4 separate regions of the Homo sapiens genome follow, and regions 2, 3 and 4 are each reported to be linked to region 1. The links are microRNA targets in miRTarBase. Many come from high-throughput screens and were not tested one by one. Region 1 holds a microRNA gene; each other region holds the end of a gene's coding sequence.

Evidence for each region. Region 1 holds the annotated microRNA hsa-miR-5590-3p (AAUAAAGUUCAUGUAUGGCAA, at 3,331-3,351, opposite strand). A microRNA usually pairs through its seed, bases 2 to 8, with sites in the 3' UTR of a target mRNA and lowers its output. Matches are read on the target gene's strand: a 7mer-m8 pairs with bases 2 to 8, a 7mer-A1 pairs with bases 2 to 7 and ends in A, and an 8mer does both.
Region 2: miRTarBase lists USP48 as a target of hsa-miR-5590-3p. The part of its 3' UTR that is shown has no 7-base or 8-base seed match.
Region 3: miRTarBase lists PEBP1 as a target of hsa-miR-5590-3p. Seed matches in the 3' UTR shown: 7mer-A1 at 1,379-1,385.
Region 4: the mRNA of TP53INP1 is a reported target of hsa-miR-5590-3p. Seed matches in the 3' UTR shown: 7mer-m8 at 2,887-2,893 and 7mer-A1 at 2,385-2,391.

The regions. Positions count from the first base shown.
Region 1 is chr2:134,855,539-134,861,203 of GRCh38, reverse strand. It overlaps MIR5590 (microRNA 5590), which reads right to left and starts at 3,384; the gene lies at 3,331-3,384. It overlaps ACMSD (aminocarboxymuconate semialdehyde decarboxylase), which reads right to left. Exons shown (of 10, transcript NM_138326.3): 3 at 1,847-1,943. RefSeq lists a silencer at 2,079-2,279.
Region 2 is chr1:21,674,924-21,680,588 of GRCh38, forward strand. It overlaps USP48 (ubiquitin specific peptidase 48), which reads right to left. Exons shown (of 27, transcript NM_032236.8): 27 at 3,375-4,516. The coding sequence ends at 4,494. Among named protein-coding and RNA genes, the nearest start is that of RAP1GAP, 8.4 kb to the left of the region's middle.
Region 3 is chr12:118,143,587-118,149,251 of GRCh38, forward strand. It overlaps PEBP1 (phosphatidylethanolamine binding protein 1), which reads left to right. Exons shown (of 4, transcript NM_002567.4): 4 at 1,000-1,998. The coding sequence ends at 1,217. Among named protein-coding and RNA genes, the nearest start is that of PEBP1, 10 kb to the left of the region's middle.
Region 4 is chr8:94,927,177-94,932,841 of GRCh38, forward strand. It overlaps TP53INP1 (tumor protein p53 inducible nuclear protein 1), which reads right to left. Exons shown (of 4, transcript NM_033285.4): 4 at 1-3,552. The coding sequence ends at 3,303. It also overlaps a transcript of NDUFAF6 not described here. Among named protein-coding and RNA genes, the nearest start is that of TP53INP1, 19 kb to the right of the region's middle.

The sequences.
Region 1 (5,665 bases):
GCTGTAGGTCAGGGAAGCATGTTCTTTCTCCAGCTCTCCTCCCACTCCAATATACTTTTAGAACAGAGGGATATATGCTATATTCTGTGGAGTACTCTACAGAGGTGCTGCAGGTTTTCTGCAAAGTTCAATTTAAATGCCACTTAAATATATTTTTAATTAAAAAATTTTTTTAGAGACAGGGTCTTGCTCCACCACTAGGCTGGAGTGTAGTGGTGCAATCACAGCTCACTGCAGCCTCAAACTCCTGGGCTCAGGTGATCCTCCCACCTCAGCCTCCTGAGTAGCTGGGATCACAGGTGCATGCCACCACACCTAGATAATTTTTTTTTTTTTTTTTTTTTTTTGTGGAGACAGGGTCTCACTGTGTTTCCCAGACTGATCCTGAACTCCTGGGCTCAAGGGATCCTCCTGACGTGGCCTCCTAACATGCTGGGATTATAGGCATGAACTACCACACCTGGCTCTATTTTTAATTGTTAAAAAATATATAAAGCAAAACCTGGACAAAGGTATCTACAACAAATTCCAACATGCTGGAGACCACCTACTCACTTTAGGCTGACCGTTTGATTCCTTTTTTGCAGACCTTGGAATAAAATGTCTCCTGCCATCTCTTTGTATATTTGAACTTCTTACAATTTGTCTTTGATTAGGAAGGTGGTAGTGCTAAACTGCTCTTTTATTTGTGTGTTTGAATTGTTTCTTTTCTGGTTGAAATCTTCCACCAATGTAAACACTTAGTTCTGACAATGTCAGTGGTGGTCAGTTCCCCATCACAGCCCATGGACACAGCCCACATGTGTCTGGAAGGCTCAGGCATTTTCTTGGAGCATGTTCTCCTCAGGTGGCACAGTCAACCAGGCAGTCACAGGTGAAGCATAATGTGGCCATCATGTCATACTTTAGATAGACTTGGAAATTTCATTTTGTTTTGTTTTGAGACAGAGTCTCACTTTGTTGCCCAGGCTGGAGTGCGGTGGTGCAATGTCGGCTCACTGCAAACTCCGCCTCCTGGGTTCAAGCGATTCTTGTGCCTTTGTCTCCTGAGCATCTGGGATTACAGGCACGCGCCAGCATGCCTGGCTAATTTTTGTATGTTTAGTAGAAATAGGGTTTTGCCATGTTGGCCAGGCTGGTCTCAAACTCCTGACCTCAGGTGATCCACCTGCCTTGGCCTCCCAAACTGTTACTGTGCCTTTTCTGAAATTCTTTTAAATTGTGAGGACTTGTTTGATTTTTAGATATAAGGTAAAAAGTGCAAGATGTTCTTATAGCTTTTTAGCAATTCAGCTTTGAAACGAACACTTCCTAATTCTCTTCTTTCAAATTTCTGGATTGATTTTATTGTAGTGTATTCTGAGATTACACAATTAACTATTTTTAACTGCTTCCATTTCCAACCCTGATGTGTCAGTGGGAATGTTCTGTGTATGATGCACCGAGACAAACTACAGAAAGAAATTGGATCTTAAGTGTTATTAAGCAGGCAATTGTCATTCTTAGTTTTGTGATTTCCAGTTTTTACTATTTTAATTGATTTTATAATAAGTAAATACTATACATTTGAACTAATTTTTAAAAATAATAAAATGCCATTTTTATCTTTTTCATGATATAGCATTCTATTTTAAAACAGGGTATAACTCATATGAAACATTTTGAATCCACACTCTAAAAGCATTGTAGTGGAAGGCCCTGTCCCTCCCACAGTGAAGCTGGAACAGCCTGTCCTGGCAGAGAAAAGGGGGTCAGAAGTTACCATCACATAAAGTTGTCAGCAAACTTTAAGGGCAGACATTGCTTTTACATCAGATGCTAACATTGGTAGCACTTCTCATCGTACCTTTTTGGTCCATTTCTCTAATACGAACTTCTGGATCCCAGCAATTCTCTCGCACCACTCTGAAGACTTTCCCATCTTTCAACAACTTTGCTTCTCCCTGGGGCAGAAAACCCACATTACTAAAATGCAACCTAAGACCACTTGGACTAATCTTTCCTCATGTGCTTTAGAACGTATTTCTTCCCTAATATTTGAAAAGATTTTTACTTAATCCTTGTGGAAGTAGAAATCAGTAATTTAACAAAAATCAGCTTTCTTTCCTCATGCTTTTCTTTGGCCTAGAGTTGAAGGGGTGTGCTCTGTGGGCGTCAATGGCTGGACACAGAGATAGCAAGGTTGAGGTTATGTTTCTCTGGGCTGCCTGACTGAGAATGGCTGATCACCTTGCTGATCTGAACCCCTGGCTACTAGATACAAGAGGATGGCCCAGCGTCTGGAAAATGGTAGTTCTATAACATTTAGAATTGAAAAGAACCTTTGAGATAGACCACCTAGTCCAACCCTCTCATTTTATGGAGAAGCAATATATGGATAATGGCAGTGTATGATTTGTCAAACAGAGCAGGGCCCACTAGTGTCAATACCTGTGGGAGGAGGTGGGCAAAGAAGTCAGTCTGGTAGCAAGCACAAAATTTGGTACTGAGCTACTTCTTCCACCAGGCATCATGCTTGCCTGGGTACACAGCAATAATTTTTATACATTTTAAATGACAAATAAAAATTGCATATATTTATGCTGTACAACATTATCTTTTGATATATGTGTGCATTGTGGAATGGCTAAATCAAGCTAATTAAAATGTCCATTACTTCACATACTTATTTTTTTTGAGGTGATGACACTTAAAATCTATTCTTTTAGCAATTTTCAAGTATACAATACATTTTTATTAACTATAGTCACCATATTGTGCAATAGATATGAACTTATTCCTCCTGTCTAACTGAAATTTCATATCCTCTGACCTTCTCAATCTCTCCCCACCCCTTCAGCCTGTGGTAACCACCATTTTTCTTGATGCTTCTGTGAGTTAGACTTTTTTAGATTCTACATATAAGTACAGTATTTGTCTTTTTATGTCTGGCTTATTTCACTTAACATAATATCCTTCAGTGTTATTCATGTTGTTGTAAATGATAGAATTTCCTTTTTATAAAGGCTGAATAGTATTCCATTATGTATATATGCCACATTTTCTTTATCCATTCATCCACTGATGGACACTTAGATTGATTCCATATCTTGGCTATTTTGAATGATGCTACATTGAACATGGGAATGCAGATATTTCTTCAACATACTGGTTTCATTTCCTCTGCATATATAGCCAGAAGTAGAATTGCTGGATCATATAGTAGTTCTATTTTTACTTTTTCTCAGGAAAACATATGATCATATCAATAGATACAGACAAATTTCTACATCCTTTTATGACTTTAAAAAACCTCAATAAATTAGGTATAGAAGGAATAAAGCTGTGGGATTGCCATACATGAACTTTATTGTTGATCAACACAATAAAGTCTATGTATGGCAATCCCACAGCTAACATCATACTTGATGGTGAAAATGATGAAAAGTTGAAAACTTTTTCTCTAAGATCAGGAACATGACAAGGGGGCTCATTTTGCCACTTCTCAACATCATAAAGGAAGTTCTAGCCAGAGCAATGAAGCAAGAAAAAGAAACAAAAGTCACCTAAATCAGAATGAAAGAAGTTAAATTGTTTTTGTTTGCAGACAACATGGTTTTATACATAGAAAACCCTAAATATTCCACCAAAAAACTGTTAAACTAATAAATTGGGTAACGTTGCAGAATACAAAATTGATATATAAAAGCCCATAGCATTTCTGTATGTTAACAATCTGCAAAAGATATCAGGCAATCCCATTATTTATTTATTTATTTCTCGAGATAGAGTCTTGTTCTGTTGCCCAGACTGGAGTGGAGTGCAGTGGTATGATCTCGGCTCACTGCAGCCTCTGCCTCCCAGGTTCAAGCAATTCTCCTGCCTTTGCCTCCCAAGTAGCTGGGATTACAGACATGCGCCACCACGCCCGGCTAATTTTTGTGTTTTTAGTAGAGACGGGGTTTCACCATGTTGGCCAGGCTGGTCTTGAACTTCTGACCTCATGATCCACCGGCCTCAGCCTCCCAAAGTGCTGGGATTACAGGCATAAGCCACTGCTCCCAGCATTAGGCAATCCCATTTAAAATAGTATTTAAAAATACTTAGGAATGAATCTAACCAAAAAGGTGAAAGATCTGAAAACTATAATACATTGATGAAAAAATTAAAGAAGACACAGACGAATGGAAAAACATCCCATGTTCGTGGATTGAAAAATTGATATTGTTTAAATGTCCATACTACCTAAAACAATCTATAGATTTAATAAAATGCCCCCCAAAATTCCAATGACATTTTTACAGAAATAGAAAAAAAAACCATACATTTCATGTAAACCACAAAAGATCTCAAATAGTCAAAGCAATTTGGAGCAAACAGAACAAAGCTGGAGGAACTAAAAACCTTTTGCACAGTAAAGGAAACGATCAACAGAGTAGAGAGACAGTTTATGGAACAGGAGAAAATATTTGTGAACCATATATCTGATAAGGAGTTACCATCCAAACTATATAAGGAACTCAAAGAACTCAATGGCAAGAAAACAAATAACTGGGTGAAAAAAGGGGCAAAGGACCTGAAAAGACATTTCTCAGAATAGATATACAAATGGCCAATAGGTATAAGAAAAAATGTTCAACTTCACTAATCATTGAGAAATGAGATATCATCTCATACTTGTTAGGATGGCTGTTATCAAAAAGACAAAAGATAATGTGTTGATAAGGATGCGGAGAAAAAGGAACCCTTGTATGCTCTTATTTGGTAACTGGTACAGCCATTATGGAATACACAACTTTTTAATACTCAGAGCAGGGGACCAAACTAAATGGTTGTGCAGAACATGGCAGTGGCATCTACGTTGGGCCTCCAGTTTGTGATTCCTAAAGAAAAGGGGAAGAACTAGGGTAGGCCCTGGAAATAAAATTGCCTGAATTCAAATTCTTGTTCTGCCACTTACTATGTGGTCTTGAGCAAGTTAAACAATATCTTCAAGCTTCAGTTTGTTTATCTTTAAAATAGGGATGATAATGACTTACCTTAAAAAATTAATGTGACTTACATTAAAGGGATCATGTCAGCATGAAATAAGATAATCCATATAAAGCGCTTAGTGGAGTATCTGACACATAAGTGTTATTATGGTTATTTGTTATTAATGTTGTATAACTAGGGGCTAGACAGTGTTCCTCTGCTTTGAGGGCACACCACCTTTGGTGGTGCTTCAGGGCCTCAAGGTTACCTTTGGGCCCCATAGAATGTCCAAGTGGGTGTGCAATGATCAAAGGCTTTGAGCTCTGCTTGGTGGAGTCCTCTGCTCTCCTCCTCCTCCTCTTGGCTTGATCATGAATTGCATCCAAGGCTTCATCCTTCTACTCCATAGACAAGACATCCTTCTACTCCATCTCCTGCATGAAGAAGTCTGGATGCTTTTCACCTTTAAGTGCTGTAGCCTGTTCATTTTGCACATATATGAGGAAGACTTCAGATCCACATTTTATTTCTCAGGGATGGGGAACAGGTCAGTGAGCAAGTTGACTTGTGTAATTGTGACAGGTGTCCACACACTAGCAGAGCTGGGTCTCTGACATCAGGACACCAAGATTGATGTGCTTCAGCTCTGATCCTCCGTTGACCATGCCAGCATCTGAACCACTTCCTAGGTTGGGGAATCTCCTGCAGCAGT
Region 2 (5,665 bases), not on the chromosome of region 1:
TTTCGTGTACTCTACCCTTGAACGATATTATTCACTAAGTATCACCAGGTAAATAATGAAAAACGCAATTCTCAGACCAGGAAGTGACCTCTGAGCACCAGCCACAGGCCTCCGCATGGCTTTGCTTCCCAGTGCCCGCAGAGCCATGCCTCGGCAGCTCGAGACATCTGTTCCTGATGTTCTTAGCAATGACAATCAAAACAACTGAAGCTGCCCCTTTGGGGCAGAAACTGCCCATCACGGAGACATAAATCTTCAACATGCATTCTAAGCGTGTTTCAAATACCTTTCGACATGACCCTGCAAAAAAAACACCGAATTGAGAAGGCTTGCAGTTTGGCCATTGGCTTCATTATTCTTATGGGCCAGGAGAAAAGATTTATGTGACAGGATGGTCGAACACCTGTCTAGTTATCATTTTAGTTGGAAGGGCTTGAAGTAAAAGGTAGTTTCTAAAGTTCTCAGAGAAGATGCTCCAGGTAGCTTTGCTAGGTGGTTACAAGGCCTCTTTTTGAAGACTTGCAAAAGAGATTCCAACAGCATTTCCTCAGAAAGGCAACAGTTCTTCTAAATGCAAAGAAAAATACAAAGCCTTTTACCTCAACAATATTTATTACTGTTTAATCCTCTGAGTGTAGTAAACAAAAATAGCAAATACTGCTATTTTGAGAGATGAAGAAATTAAGGTAAAGCAAGATTAAGTCACTTTTCTTGGTTACAAGGTAAATGGTGAAATTATCTGTAACACAGGTGGCCCAACTTCTACAACTCCACACTTTCAACACTTGCCTGTATGTTTATGTGCTATCTGGATAGCTAGCAGACTCCTTAGCCCAATTAACAGCCAGAATGGAAAAAAAAAAAAAAAAAAAATCCAAGGTTTGAGATATATGGGATGGAGAAGTGGTTTTGTCTGCCAATGAGACTGTCTACCTGGCACACACTACCTGACACAGAAATGTTGCTCAGGGAAATCAACAAAGTGCTACCTACCATTTTACAAATGTTTATAATTTGTACTTTAATGAAAAATAGAGGGTTCGAATAATGTTGATAAATCCCCAGCCAGTATTTCTGCCTACAGAATGTCTAGGAGATGGGTGTGTGTGTGTGTGTGTGTGTGTGCGCGCGCGCGTGTGTGTGTGTTTTGGGTGGGGGTGGTGATGCCAGCTTTCAGAAGTAGAAATGTTGTTGACAAAACCCTGTACTCTGGGGTGGGGGTGGGAGTATGGGGCGTTATCACAGACATGCACATTTTTTTTTTGTGACAAGGTCTCACTCTGTCGCCCAAGCTGAGTGCAGTGGTGTGATCACAGCTCACCGCAGCCTCGACCTCCTGGGGTCAAGCAATTATCCTGCCTCAGCCTCCAGAGTAGCTGGGACCACCGGCATACCTGGCTAATTTTTGCTTTTTTATAGAGATGAAGTCTCACTATGTTTCTCAGGCTGGGAAAATCTTCTTAAAATGAAAACGCTGGCTTTTAATCTGCATGCACTCTGTTCGCAGTCCCCTATTAACACTGAATGAGCTGAGGACTAAAGTACCCAAGAGAAAGGATATGATTCTGCCCCATGATTCGGTAACAGGAAAGACAGGCTTTCTTGCTCATTTCGCTTCAGCGGTTTGTTTAGACAGAGATAAATCATCCCTTGGGTTTTTAAAACAGGTTATTCAACCTGAGCATTAGATTCCAATATTAACCAGAGTCTGATGAACAGATCTATGACCACATAGACCAACCAAAAGCACATTTAAAATAACCAAAAAATTCACTATGGATTATGCTCCCACAGAAATAAAGGGACACTCATATCTTTTAAATTTGGCAGGAAGGTAACAGTAATTCTAAACAATAGAGTTCATAAATACACAGAAAGATACTTACTCCCCAGGAAATGAAGACACCCAAATGCAGCCTATATTTCAGTTCGTGGTGACAATCTGTACCAGTGTAGTATGCTGAACACATTCGTTTCAGATTAAAGAATGGTCAGAAATATCAAGGGGAAAAGACCCAAGCTTCATAATACCTTATACCGGAGACTGATCTAATATAAAAAAGTACACATGCATGGCATTAGAACCCCAACACAAAGAGTCTCTGAACTTTTCACAGTCCAGAAGGCAAATGGACTCCATCTATTCATAATTACAGACGAAACGAGAATCGGGCTTTAGGTCATACCCTTTACCTGTTTTTCCCTGTACCAAGTGAGAAGGGTGGCAATGCAAAACCATTCAATACAAGCATACGTTTCTTTGCAACTCTGCCTACTATGGGTGGGAGAGGCCCCAAGCCCAGGGTTTCAAAGAGTACAGGAGTGGCCTGTGGATGCAGATTCCGATTCAGCGGGTCTAGGGCCTGAGCTCCTGCCTTGGTAATAAAGCTTCACAGTGTCACTGGAGCCGCTGGGCTGCAGTTACTTTCAGCAGTGCTGGCAGAACAAGGCAAGTTGTCAGAGCAGGAGGAAGATGACCCTGAGCCAAGGGCAGACTCTTGCAGCATCACCTGCTCACTCGGTGCCCACCCCACCCCTGGACAGAGATAATAAAGAAGCCAGTACTCAGAGCAGGTACCACCAGCCTGAAAGATTTACAAAAGGCTGTTATTTCGTAGCATTGCAGGAGGAAAAAATACCCAAGTAACAAATTTCAAAACTGTTATCAACAGCAAATTGGGGAAAATATATCAGATTTCTGGGGGCTGCTAACATGTTTATGTCAATCCCCAAAAAGAACCTTCTCTGGCCAACAAGCTTCTTTGTAAGGAAAAGGAAGTGGCTTCAATCAAGCATTGTGCGAACTTTTATAAAAGTCTTTACCTTGGGAAAGAAGAAGTTTGTGTTATTAGTTTTAGGCTCCTGCATTCATTTCTTTGGAGCTAATAAAACAATGAGATCTAAAAATCAGGATCCATCAGCTCAACTTCAAGTCCTTCCCCTGTGCCAACCTCAAGGCCAGAACAGTTGGTCCCTTGGTTCCACTCCTAGGATGGTTTCTCAGGGGGCTGTGTGCAGCTCTCACCTTCCCCCATAGATAGGCTCATTAGAGACCCCCTGCCTCCTCAGGGGACACAGACTGAAGACATTAGAAACACAGAGGGGAAACACAAACACGAAGTTAGAATTTTACCAAATGGCCGTAATTACTCTGACAAAAGGAGCTATTCAAAAGGGATGCTGCCAAGGTTATCGGGTCTCAAATCAAAATCTGCCTTCCCCATCCATGATCTGAGTTCACATTTTCATGAAAGGGGGAAAAAGCCTTGCACAAACCCAAGGCCAAGAAAAGTGTTAACAAGAGAGATGCCTAAGCTAGCATCTCAGCCACAAACTTACACAGACGGACTCAACAGAGAAAACTTTTTTTTTTTTTTCAAAGGAAAAACTCCAGTCTTAAGTTCAATTAAAAAAACCCCTTCAATATTCTTAAGAATATTGCTTCGGTTACGTGTTGCTAAGAATGATAATCCTGAGTTGGATGGACAGCACATCCATATACTTTTTTCCTTTTTTAAACAATGATCTAAGAGACCCTCTCAGGGCATTTTGGAATAATGCTTTCAAAAAGAGAACTGAGGTCCAAGAAACAGTGACATGGAGGACAGGAAGAACAAATTTTATAGAAACCTTGTGTTATCCAAATGTACTTCAGTCTGATTTACTCTTCTGATAGGTAGTCAGATTTTTTATTTTCAAACGTGCCAGGTACATTTCCCACTTTTGAATAACAGCAAAACCGGAAGAGGATGCTTTCACACATAATAAATGTTCTCCATCCTTTCTGAAATGCACCAAAGCAAAAAGCCTCTGAAGTCAAAACATGAGACATAATTCCTTGCTCATTGCAGGAGACATGCAGGTGCCCCCTCCTTTACCCAATACCAAGAGACAGACGGCCGGGCAGGTGTAAGGCGGGTGGCGCTGCAGCTGACATGGAGAAGAGTCTAAATCTGAAGACACTTTTCCACACTTAGGACAAGTTCTTCACTTTCATGCTTTATTGAAAGTAGAATATGAATCAAAGACAGGCATTGGTAAGCAGGTTATGTCTCTAAAATTACTTTTCGTTCAGAGCAGAATGTTGTCCCATCTACTTGATACAATCCTTTATGGACCAACGCATCTGGTATGAAACTCGAGCAAGGAAATATAACAGAACTTTATTCCCCTCCCACGACTATAAATCTCATATGTAAACATGATTTACTATTACTGCTACTAAACTTGTTCCGTCTTTACTTGCCCCCTCCCACCCACCACCCCCCTTAAATATAAAATTGGAAACATTTCCTTCAAGTCTGATGTCCATCAGTGCAATCTGCTTTATTTGACATAAGGCATTTGGGACAGTCACGTTTGAATGGATTTCTGCCTTTTGGAAGGGGCATGTAATGGTTTAATTCTTAAATCCACCTTTGCTTTAATGCCCTAACATGTCAAACTCCTCTTCCCCTCTGGTCATTTCTTAGCAGTCAGCAAGTATTCAAAGATTAATGTCCAAGAAGACCAGTACCTGGGAAAAGAAACACACGTGGAGGGATAGTTGTGAACTACAGATTAAAAGTTCATGGATTCCATTTACCAAGAACACATCATCAACAGGGAGCATCAAATTTAATAAATGAACACAGTCGCACCTTGGTGTGGGAGGATAAGACAAAATACCAGCAGACTCCAGGCTCTCCGCTAAATCACATTTTTGTTGAAAGCCATGTGCTTCCTAAGTGTATCTTCACACAAACTAACCAGATTTTATTGATTCTTTCATTTAATGACCATTCTTCTTTTCTGAGAGTTTCACTCTTGTCGCCCAGGCTGGAGTGCAGTGGTGCAATCCTGGCTCACTGCAACCTTATCTCCCAGGTTCAAGCATTCTCCTGCCTCAGCCTCCCAAGTAGCTGAGATTACAGGCGCACGCCACCATGCCCGGCTAATTTTTGTATTTTTAGTAGAGATGGGGTTTCACCATGTTGGCCAGACTGGTCTCGAACTCCTGACCTCAAGTGACCCACCCGTCTCAACCTCCAAAAGTGCTGGGATTACAGGCGTGAGCCACCATGCCCGGCCAATGACCATTTTTCATAAAGACGTTTTTTGCTTTGTTTTGACCCCATCAGGAGTCCCTTTGTAATGGTAGCATGCAGACAACACAGCTGCAGCAAGAGGAAGACTTTATTTTGGCCAGTAGATTTGTCTCTCATTTGCTTTAGCAAGGAATAGCTGGTATGTGATTCAAAGTCATTCCTTAGAAAATCACAACCTGCCAGGGGCTTCTGGAGTGGCCAGCAAAGAATCAAGACAGCAACAGGAAAATCCGAAAACGTCAGAGGTCTGTATTTGATGACTTCTTGAATATTATCGGTGTGCACAACTACATGGCCCAGATGTAGTACGAGCACCACCGTGTCTCCTCTTGAAGTAATAATCCAACAAATGCCTTAATGCTAAGTGATTAATTAAATCTTTTCACTGGACTTGATAAAACCTGACAAATTCTTGTGCCACTAATTCTTAATAGTTACACACTGTTTTGCTCTAGGAGGGGACTTGATAGGAAGAACTGGGAAAAGGTTAAAAATAAATCTTGAAATGCCACTAGCTAATTTCCCAACCTCCCATAAAATGAGAAAGGGAAGGCCAAATGGACATCTGGCAAGAAACA
Region 3 (5,665 bases), not on the chromosome of region 1:
AAACAACTTTTTAAAAAATAACTTTGTTTCTGGCCGGGTGCAGTGGCTCACAGCTGTAATCCCAGCACTTTGGGAGGGCGAGATGGGTGGATCACTTGAGGTCAGGAGTTTTGCCAACATGGTGAAACCTGGTCTCTACTAAAAATACAAAAACAAAACAAAACAAAACATAACTGGGCGTGGTGGCACGTACCTGTAATCCTAGCTACTCAGGAGGCTGAGGCAGGAGAATTGCTTGAACCCAGGAGGCTGAGGTTGTAGTGAGCCGAGATCATGCCACTGCACTCCACGCCTAGGCAACAGAGTGAGACTCCGTCTCAAAAAAAAAAAAAAAACCCACTTTTTAAAAAAATAAGAGCTCATGGTACCTATTTGCATCCAGTACATCATTGAAGCTTGTAGAAAGCTGCTTAGTTAAAGTGAGGTTGGGTCACTTCGAAGTAGTCCTCCAGTTTTCTAAGCAAGTAAATTTTGGAGGTAGAAAGAAAATGTTCTCCTTTATCCTAGAGGCTCGACTGTGGTATGGTGGGCCCGGGTCATTGATTTGCTTTGTCCTTAATTGGTTGCTCCTACCTGACAGAAGTGAAATGGGTGTTCTGATGGGGGGTGGTGGGTGGTGACTTGAGAAGGTCCGGGAGCCTGAAGTGGGATGAATGAAGAGCACAGAGGCTCGTTGGGAGGCGAGGATAAGGGGGTGCAGAGGCCAGATCCCACAGGCCAGGAGAGGCTGGAACTAAGGGCTTGGGCTTGACACCAGTTACAGCAGGGGCCTAACACATTCTATTAGGTTGATGCAAAAGTAATTGCGGTTTTTGCCATTAATGTGTTAATTGCCATTAAATGTTAATTTGCACCAAATACCTGTCTGGACCCTCGGTGTCCTCCTTGTAAATGGTGTGGTCTGGGTGCCTCCATGTTGAAACATTCGATAAAAATGGATGATGTCCCCATCTCAAGTGCTGGGCTGTGTGTACATCTTCCCTCTGCCTCTCCCCACAGGCCTCCACCGCTATGTCTGGCTGGTTTACGAGCAGGACAGGCCGCTAAAGTGTGACGAGCCCATCCTCAGCAACCGATCTGGAGACCACCGTGGCAAATTCAAGGTGGCGTCCTTCCGTAAAAAGTATGAGCTCAGGGCCCCGGTGGCTGGCACGTGTTACCAGGCCGAGTGGGATGACTATGTGCCCAAACTGTACGAGCAGCTGTCTGGGAAGTAGGGGGTTAGCTTGGGGACCTGAACTGTCCTGGAGGCCCCAAGCCATGTTCCCCAGTTCAGTGTTGCATGTATAATAGATTTCTCCTCTTCCTGCCCCCCTTGGCATGGGTGAGACCTGACCAGTCAGATGGTAGTTGAGGGTGACTTTTCCTGCTGCCTGGCCTTTATAATTTTACTCACTCACTCTGATTTATGTTTTGATCAAATTTGAACTTCATTTTGGGGGGTATTTTGGTACTGTGATGGGGTCATCAAATTATTAATCTGAAAATAGCAACCCAGAATGTAAAAAAGAAAAAACTGGGGGGAAAAAGACCAGGTCTACAGTGATAGAGCAAAGCATCAAAGAATCTTTAAGGGAGGTTTAAAAAAAAAAAAAAAAAAAAAGATTGGTTGCCTCTGCCTTTGTGATCCTGAGTCCAGAATGGTACACAATGTGATTTTATGGTGATGTCACTCACCTAGACAACCAGAGGCTGGCATTGAGGCTAACCTCCAACACAGTGCATCTCAGATGCCTCAGTAGGCATCAGTATGTCACTCTGGTCCCTTTAAAGAGCAATCCTGGAAGAAGCAGGAGGGAGGGTGGCTTTGCTGTTGTTGGGACATGGCAATCTAGACCGGTAGCAGCGCTCGCTGACAGCTTGGGAGGAAACCTGAGATCTGTGTTTTTTAAATTGATCGTTCTTCATGGGGGTAAGAAAAGCTGGTCTGGAGTTGCTGAATGTTGCATTAATTGTGCTGTTTGCTTGTAGTTGAATAAAAATAGAAACCTGAATGAAGGAACTGAGTCCCCGGATGTTTTGTTCTATTGGGTATAGGTTTCATAAGTGTGAGAAGTCAAGTCTCAGGGTGAGTCGTCTCCGTGACCAGCAAGTAACAGCTGGGACTTGTTCTAGGGGCCATATGGAGGGTCTGTGCCTCTACATGTGCCATTAACCCACAGCAGGAGCAAACAGTTCAGATTTGAGGTTTCTAAAAAAAAAATCATAAAATGTGAGGCCGAGTCTTATTGCCCAAAAAGCACCTTTGCTTCAAGTGGTCCTTTTGACCCAAGAAGGATGTTCTAAAGAAGATGGCTGAAAACCTTCCCCCTTGGTGAAGTCTGGCGCGGACACCGTAACAATGCCTAAGAAGTAGCCTGCACTTCCCGTTCTGATGTGTTATCCACAGAGGCTCAGTACCAAAGAGGTGCGCAGGGTAGGAGGGTGAGAAGGTCACGGTCTCATGCCATCTGATGTACCGAAAGAAAGGAAAGGAGGTGTTTGAAGGTGCAAATCACTGTGATTTGGTCTCTGCGATGCAAAGGGGGGGGTCCTGAATCAGGCCTGACAGGTGCTAATGACTAGCCCTTCCCCATCTTTCACTGCAGTACTTTTTTCTCTGAAAAAACTTGGAAATGTTGCCTTGCTGGAAGCACATAAGGTAGATGTAAGTTTTCTTTTTTTCTTTTTTTAATTTTTTTGAGATGGAGTCTCACCCTGTCACCCAGGCTGGAACGCAGTGGAATAATCTCGGCTCACCGCAACCTCCACCTCCTGGGTGGGTTCAAGTGATTCTCTTGCCTCAGCCTCCTGAGTAGCTGGGATTACAGGCATGCACCACTATGCCCAGCTAATTTTGTATTTTTAGTAGAAAAGGGGTTTTGCCATGTTGGCCAGGCGGCTCTCAAACTCCTGACCTCCTGACCACTTTGGCCTCCCAAAGTGCTGGGATTACAGGCATGAGCCACCATGCCAAGCCTGGAAGTTTTTTTTTTTTTTTTTTTTTTTTTACTTTAGAGTTCTAAAATTCGTTTTTTTACGTAATAAGATTTTGTTGAACACAAGTTACAAAGAAAACAACTGTCAGCTGGGCGCCGTGGCTCACGCCTGTAATCCCAGCACTTTGAGAGGCCGAGGTGGGTGGATGAACTGAGGTCAGGAGTTCAAGACCAGCCTGGCCAACATGGTAAAACACCATCCCTACTAAAAATACAAAAATTAGCTGGACATGGTGGCGGGCGCTTGTAATCCCAGCTACTAGGGAGGCTAAGGCAGGAGAATCGCTTGAGCCTGGGAGGCGAGGTTGCAGTGAGCTGTGATCGCGCCATTGCACTTAAGCCTGGGTGACAAGAGCGAAACTCTGTCTCGAAAAAAAAAAAAACTGTCCTGTTGACCTTGGAAATAAATGTAAAGTCTGGGCATGGAGACTCACACCTGTAATCCCAGCACTTTGTGAGGCCAAGGTGGGGCAGATCACCAGCCTGGGCAACATGGCAAAACCCCTCTCTCTCTAAAAAAATGCAAAAATTAGCCCGATGTGTGGACTCGTTCCTGTAGTCCCAGCTACTAGGGAGGCTGAGGTGGGAGGATCACTTGAGGTCAGGAGGTCAAGGCTGCAGTAATTCCAGCTACTTGGGAGGTGGAGGCAGAAGAACTGCTTAAACCTGGGAGGTGGAGGATGCAGTGAGCCAACATCACGCCACTGCACTCCAACCTGGGTGACAGAGCGACACTCCATCTAAAAAAAAAATAGAAAAAGAAAAACATATTAATACTAACACGGAACTAAAGAGAAAAAAAAATACATATATATGAGAAGGCAGTAGTCATCTAAGAAAGAAGGGTGATGCCTTCAACTGGTATGTGATGTGAACTTCCCCAAGGGCGGCTAGGAAGGGGGTGACCCCCATTCTGAACTCAACTCTGGCCTCAAGGTCCAGCTGATAACCACCGGGCCCACTGGGTCACAAATTCCAGCTTCCTCATTTGAAAAAACATCAGGGTTGCAGGGGGTTGTCAGCCTGCCTTATTTACCTCACAGCGTTGTTGGAGGACAAAATCATCTTTTTTGGGATTAAGAGTTAATGTATGTAAATGACTAAACTTGGCCTGATTGTCATATAAGAACAAAGTACAAAAGTCCAGTTTCCTCAGGTCTGTTTCCTCACTGCAGCCTCCGCCTCCTGGGTTCAAGCGATTCTCCTGCCTCAGCCTTCCTAGTCCCCCTGCCTTCCTTACTGCCTCCTCAGGCAGGTACTAGGAGGAGTAGGACAACTCTGTCCATAGCAGGTGTTTGTTAGGAGCAGGGACCCACATCCCTGCTTCCGGGTAACTGCCCTGGGACACATCCTTGACAAACTTGCGCAGTGGGACTTTTTTTTGAGACCGAGTCTCATTCTGTTGCTCAGGCTGGAGTGCAGTGGTGCCATCTTGGCTCACTGCAGTCTCCGCCTCCCGGGTTCAAGCGATTCTCCTGCCTCAGCCTCCCGAGTAGCTGGGATTATAGGCGCCCACCACCACGCCCGGCTGATTTTTGTATTTTTAGTAGAGACGGGGTTTCACCATGTTGGCCAGGCTGATCTCAAACTCCTGACCTCAGATGATCCACCCACCTCGATCTCCCAAAGTGCTGGGATTACAGCTGTGAGCCACCGAGACCTTTTCTAAAGATAGCACCTACAATCTCAGACATAGGGCCCTTTCCCAAACTAGCTAGACATTTCTCACCACAGTGAGAAATGGATGAAAGAGGCTACAGGAAGCTTTTCTACCCTACTGAAGGTGGAATACTCCTTTGGGTATAGATCAGACAGGTCTCGATTCAGACCCCACCCTGCCACTGGAGTGAGCTTATTTCTTCATTTGTGAAAGCCTAGTGTTCCATCATGTGGCAAGCGTAAGCACGCCATCGACGTTATCTGTTTCTCTAACCCTTTCCAGTATTATTTTCAGATGTACCTAATATAGAAACTCCAATGAACAGAGGTACTTAGGAAACACAATTATCACTGAGTGTGATGTTACAGAAGGTTTTGTAGTTGGGATTAACCCATGTTGATAATTATTTATGAGTATACCTTTCTGCTTTAGCCTATCAGAGTGAACATGACTGGTCACATTTGTCTCCGATACATGAACATCCTGTAGGAAACAAGAGTGATCTTTAGGTCATCATATTCTTTTCTTTTGAAACAGAGTTTCACTGTTGTTGCCCAGGCTGGAGTGCAGTGGTGCCATCTTGGCTCACTGCAACCTCCGCCTCCCACGTTCAAGCGATTCTCCTGCCTCAGCCTCCCGAGTAGGTGGGATTACAGGTGCCCGCCACCACACCCAGCTAATTTTTGTATTTTTAGTAGAGATGGGGTTTCACCATGTTGGCCAGGCTGGTCTTGAATTCCTGACCTCAGGTGATCCACCCACCTCAGCCTTCCAAAGTGCTGGGCCCACCCCACGTCATCATACTCTAAAGAGCAATTTCCAGGAGTGTCCAAGGGAGAGAACACAAGTCATGGGTTCTTAGTTTCTGTTTCTGGTTGGGCCAGTAAAGCCCCTTCCTCGTCCCCCTTTTCCATTTATCACTAGACACAGAAACCAAAAACCATAGCTTCAGGCTGCCAAAAGCCTAGAACAAAACAAAACAGAGTAACAACAAAATAAGGTGGGTTGGACAAGCCTGATTGATAGA
Region 4 (5,665 bases), not on the chromosome of region 1:
CTTCATGTTTTTGTTTCCAACTCAGAGAAAATGAGAATAATGAAGATACTCTTCCTTGCTCGTTTTTCTTAAGAGTACATAAAGATAATATATAATGTATTTCATTGAGGAGGAAGAGAAGTAGCAAGGATTTCAATGAAGACATAATGATTACAAACCAGTGTACTATACAGATTTCAGAAGCAGAAACAATGCTGAACAGCCTGCTCAAGTTTTAAATAAACTGTCTTCTCACTCAAAGTACTGATACAACAGAGAAGGTATGTAAACAGGAACAGTTTGCATGGGGATTGGAAAAATGTATAGGAAATTAATATTTCTTAAAAGCTCCCTGCGATAGGAAGTCGAAAACCCAATCACTTTGCATCTTTCTGCAAAAAATTCCCCACCCAATCAACCATATAAATGCATTGCCACAGAAGATAAATAATGGATGGCTAATTTTCACCTTACAGTGCAGTACACAATTAGTTGAGAAAAAAAATAAACATAAGATATATATTATAAAATGTTTTGTCAACAAAAACAAACTTTGAGAAACATGGCGCACTATAAAAGCTAAGAAACTCATTCACGAAGCACTGCTTGTGTACACCACATATTCCAGACTTTTTCCAAGTAACATTCTATGTTAACAGTTTAGAGCTACTAATTCAGAGAGGTCTTATTTCTCACTGCTTGCATTTTAAAGAAATATGTCTAAAGCGCATTGTAAACCACTAATATTTACAATAGCAAAAAAAAAAGCTCATAAAATGCATTTTGGCCATGTTTCAGAGAATACTTAACAGGTCAACATCGTTCTGTGTTGTGGTTGGCCTTGTGTCTTACATACAGGAGATGCCTAACATCTAATAACCAAGAGTTTCAACTGAATTATATAACCATTTTCTTCAATACTTACATGTGCCAATTTTAGGCAGAAACCACAGTATGATATTCCAGGTGGTGTGGTAATCCCAACCTTGAAAAAAAGCCCAACGAATGTAATTTTTTGTTTTCTAGGTACAAAGCATAAAAAACTAGCCCCAGGTAAGGCAAACAAAAAGTCAATAAGGAAATCTGGAAAAAAAGGCCATTGCAGTTATACACAAATCTGTTCATGTTGCCAAACAAAATCTCATGGCTGAACTTCTGTAGCTTGTGAGGTACTAACAACTTACATGCAATGTATGAAAAAGAGACGCCGTGTATTCAGAGTTTTACATCCTGAAGACATTAAGCTGGTCTATTTTCAAGTTACCAATGCATGGCCCTATAACAAACATCGTATAAAACATACACACCTTCATGGAAACTATCTTATCTCCCAACTCTGGTAAACACAAATAGTAAGAGAAAACAACTTCTAACTCACTTTGACAAAACTTTACAGACTTGGCCCCTAATTAGACAACAAATAAATAAAGGGGAAGTCAAAACGGAAGGGGCAATAAGGAGAAAGGGGGAATCTAACTCTTGTTCTAAAGAGACATTCTGGCACTTCATCACAGCCAGTAGAAGAACAATGTAAAACCTCCATCTCACTACACATTTGACGTCTTCCACTCCAAACGCTCTAATCTAGTCAGAAAAGAGCACAGCTCTTCGCTGAAAGTCCCCCAGGGTTCCCTGCATCAAGCCACTACAGGGTTATTGAAAAATATAATACTTCACTTAAGGATATGCTGCTTTTCTCCTTGAAAACATTTTGTAGACCTGTACTCATTTAATTAGGGTTGCAGAGGAGATGGAAAAACAAGCTGTTTGATTATGAAGGCAACACTTCTGTCAGTAGAATTGCTTTGGATTGTAAATATGTTTACTTCAGAGGAAATCAGTCAGAGTGGATGGCTCAGCAAAACCCATCACAACTGCGGAAAAAGGAAGTGACTGGCTAGAGGTAAGGAAATAGATTTTCTCTAAGTTAACTGGCCTACGTGTGAATCGAACCCTGCACCCTGGCCTCATTAGCACCAACACTGTGAAGAACAGCTGTGGCAGAGAAAGTGCCACGGCCCCACCCCATCACCAGATTCAGTAGAAAGGCCCTTGGAATTTCCTACAAGGTTCAGTTCTGAACAGCTCCACTTCAAATCAGTATAGAATCCTCACAGTGACTCTGTGAGGGAGGTAAATGTCACTGCTCCCCGTTGGTGGGGGAAACAGAGGCCAGAGTGGTTAAAGATTTTGCCTGAAGTTAAAACAAAAAATGAAAAGTCACTTGGACTGCAGGGAAGAATACTTACAATACAAGGCAATTAAAAAAAAAAAAAGAAAAAAGTTGAGCCAACCTGTCACTCTTCACTCAGATGCCATGAAAGACATCATCACCAGACAGTCCCCACACTCTTGCCACTTGGCAGGACAGGCTCCATGACAGAGGATTTTTCACTCTGTGGAAATATAAAGCCTATCTCTTTTCCCATGGGCAGAGAGAAATATGAAGTCACTTGAGTGCCTGGACAAGTACTTCCAAATTTATAGCTGATGCGAGGTGAGGAGTGGACAGAATTGGCGGGAAGGAATAGTAACAAATTAAATACTGCACTAATGGGTTAGTTACAGACATGAATTTTTCCAAATATAATCTCACAGGTCTAATTTAATCCCTCTGCACGAGACAAGTGCCTCTGTCTACAACACCTGTAATGTCTGTACCACGTCATGCAGTCACATTGGAATTACTGCATGCACTCTTCACTAAAGCTTAATGTACCTGAATTCCAAATGAACTGTATGACTAATCTGGGGAAAAACCATACACACAGAATACATCAAGTTTTCTTTCAAAAGAAAGTCCAGCCATAATTCCATTATATCCATGGCAACTATCACCTGTTAATGCTAATGTTAGTGTGTAAAAATGTATTCATCATATACAGAGAGATTATCAAGTACTGGTCAATAAAGTGTACAGCTGACCCTGAGAATAAATTTTTGCTTGCTTAAAAGATTAAGTAATACAAAATAAAATGAAAATGAAAGATGCCTATTCTCGTACTTGGGAAGAAATGTCTTTAAAATGCTGACTAATGTATAACCTAATATATTTAAAGACACCCCCAAACACTGTAATTATATTGATATGTTTCCAGAAATAATCTGAAAAAGTGTACAAAAAAAGTAAATGTTAAAGGCAAGGCATTATGTGATACACAGCATATAAATCTGATTTTCAAGATAGTGTCTAAATACACTGATAAAACTATGTGATTGGTTATCAATTGGTTGTAAAGAGACAACATTTTCACTGTACATATACACACATCCATACATGTAAGCACAAACCAAGAGAAACCAACCAACAAAACTTGAAACTATTAGTAATTGTACTGACGCGGGCAGGGCTGATGAACAACCCAGCCATTGTGCTTGACTTGCCGAGGGTGGCAATCCCTGGTAAGATTTTGGCGACGAAGGCTATTTCTGTTAAGAGGCTGTCTTTCACTGTGTTCTTTTATCCACTGGGAAGGGCGAAAGCTCTTGGGTTGTTCCAGAAAAGTTGTATGAGCAGCAAGAGCTGCAACATAACAATGAATATGCTGCCCCATTTCATTTTGAGCTTCCACTCTGAAACAGAAAAAAGTGGGGATGTATTAAATAACAGAGTATGTTATTAACAAAACTGGAAAAGTTACTTAGCAATTCAATTTGCCACGCTAATTTGTTTATGGCTGAATGAGAGCTTGTGTTTCATGGCTGACAGACAAGTTTATTATTCTGTGACCCCACTGACTGATAGTGGTGGAAAGGAGAGCCAACTGTTACTAGAAAGATGCCATATAAGCCCCAGATGGCTCACTAAGTAGACTGTTTTCTAAAAATACACTTTAAACTTTGAATTTCATTTACGGAGCACACACATTTATATAAGCTTGTCTGGGAGGGGAGCTAACATTTATTGAATATCTGCATTTGCCAATTCTTTTGCAAATATATATTTTAATTCTCACCATAATCTTAAAAGGAAAATATTTTAATTCCCAAATTTTACTGATCAGAAAGCAGTGTGCTCACAATACCTTCACAAGACATTTCCTGTCTATAAGTAAAATGTTCCAGGAAACATGCTTTAAATCTTTATTTAATAGAAATTTGCATATGGAAATTCTACTCATTTGCCATTTTTCTAGATAAAAAGCTATAGCTTAATAGAATAAATCTCTTAAGTTTTTCTTTATCTCACAACAGGGCACATTTTGAGATGGTATTTACATGGCAATATAAGACTCTTGAATAACACAATCTTAAAATTGGCTACACACAGTATGATTATGTTTTCCATATAAAAAAGCTAATCAAGTAGGATTGCTGTAAACTATGTCAACACGTAACATGAAGAGCTGTATGATTTTTAAGAGTTATTTTACACAGGAAGGGCAGTGACACATTCTGCCTAAAATCACTTGAGGAAACACACATATTTATTACACACACACACACACACACACATAAAATTTTTTTAAAGTAGAATTTTAAGAGGCCACAATAAGAAACTAATAGAAAAAAGTTAATATAAAGAAAATTATTTTTAGGCCAGGCGCTGTGGCTCGCTCTTGTAATCCCAACACTTTGGGAGGCTGAGGCAGGTGGATCACCTTAATAGAGTTCAAGACCAGCCTGGCCAACATGGTGAAACCCCATCTCTACTAAAAATACAAAAATTAGCCAGGTGTGGTGATGCAAGCCTGTAATCCCAGCTACTTGGGAGGCTGAAACAAGAGAATCACTTGAATCTGGGGGGTGGAGGCTGCTGTGAGCCAATATCACACCATTGCACTCCAGCCTGAGTGACAGAGTGAGACTCCATCTCAAAAAAAGAAAGAAAGTCATTTTTAAAAGGTCAGCATTTGGGTCCTTTGCCTCCCTATGCATACATATATCACACAGTCTCAAAGTGAATATACTTACTCTGTGCCCGTGAGTCTTATAAGCAGCTTTTCCTGGCCCTACAAATGTTAAATGGTGAACTATTAAATCACTAGTAAGATTTAAAATGCTATTGTAACTTTACTATTAGGACGTGGTCAACTTTTATTAAAACTGGTTTACTATGTGCCATTAAAGGCACGTACATGTGCTTAAGATAACATGTAAAACCTTCAAAAACAATACTTATAAAGGCTAAAATGCAATGAAATGTATACCCTGAAGCCCACTGTAATTACAAAGCACCTCAATTTTCTGTGCTTTATGGTAATATCCCCAATGATAGACACAATGGAAGCAATCTGACTTCTGAAAGACATATGATTCATTTCCTGCTAAGAAAACAGATATTTACTACAAAGCTAGCCTAATTTTGGTAACACCTGATTTCCACCTTGATTTAGCAAGACTTCCTTATAAGAATTTCAAATCCCTGCCGGGCACGGTGGCTCACGCCTGTAATCCCAGCACTTTGGGAGGCTGAGGCGGGCGGATCGTGAGGTCAGGAGATCAAGACCATCCTGGCTAAAACAGTGAAACCCCGTCTCTACTAAAAATACAAAAAATTAGCTGGGTGCGGTGGCGGGCGCCTGTAGTCCCAGCTACTCGGGAGGCTGAGGCAGGAGAACGGCATGAACCCAGGAGGCGGAGCTTGCAGTGAGCCGAGATAGCGCCACTGCACTCCAGCCTGGGCGAAGGAGCGAGACTCCGTCTCAAAAATAAAAAAAAAAGAATTTCAAATCCCAAAATAAGG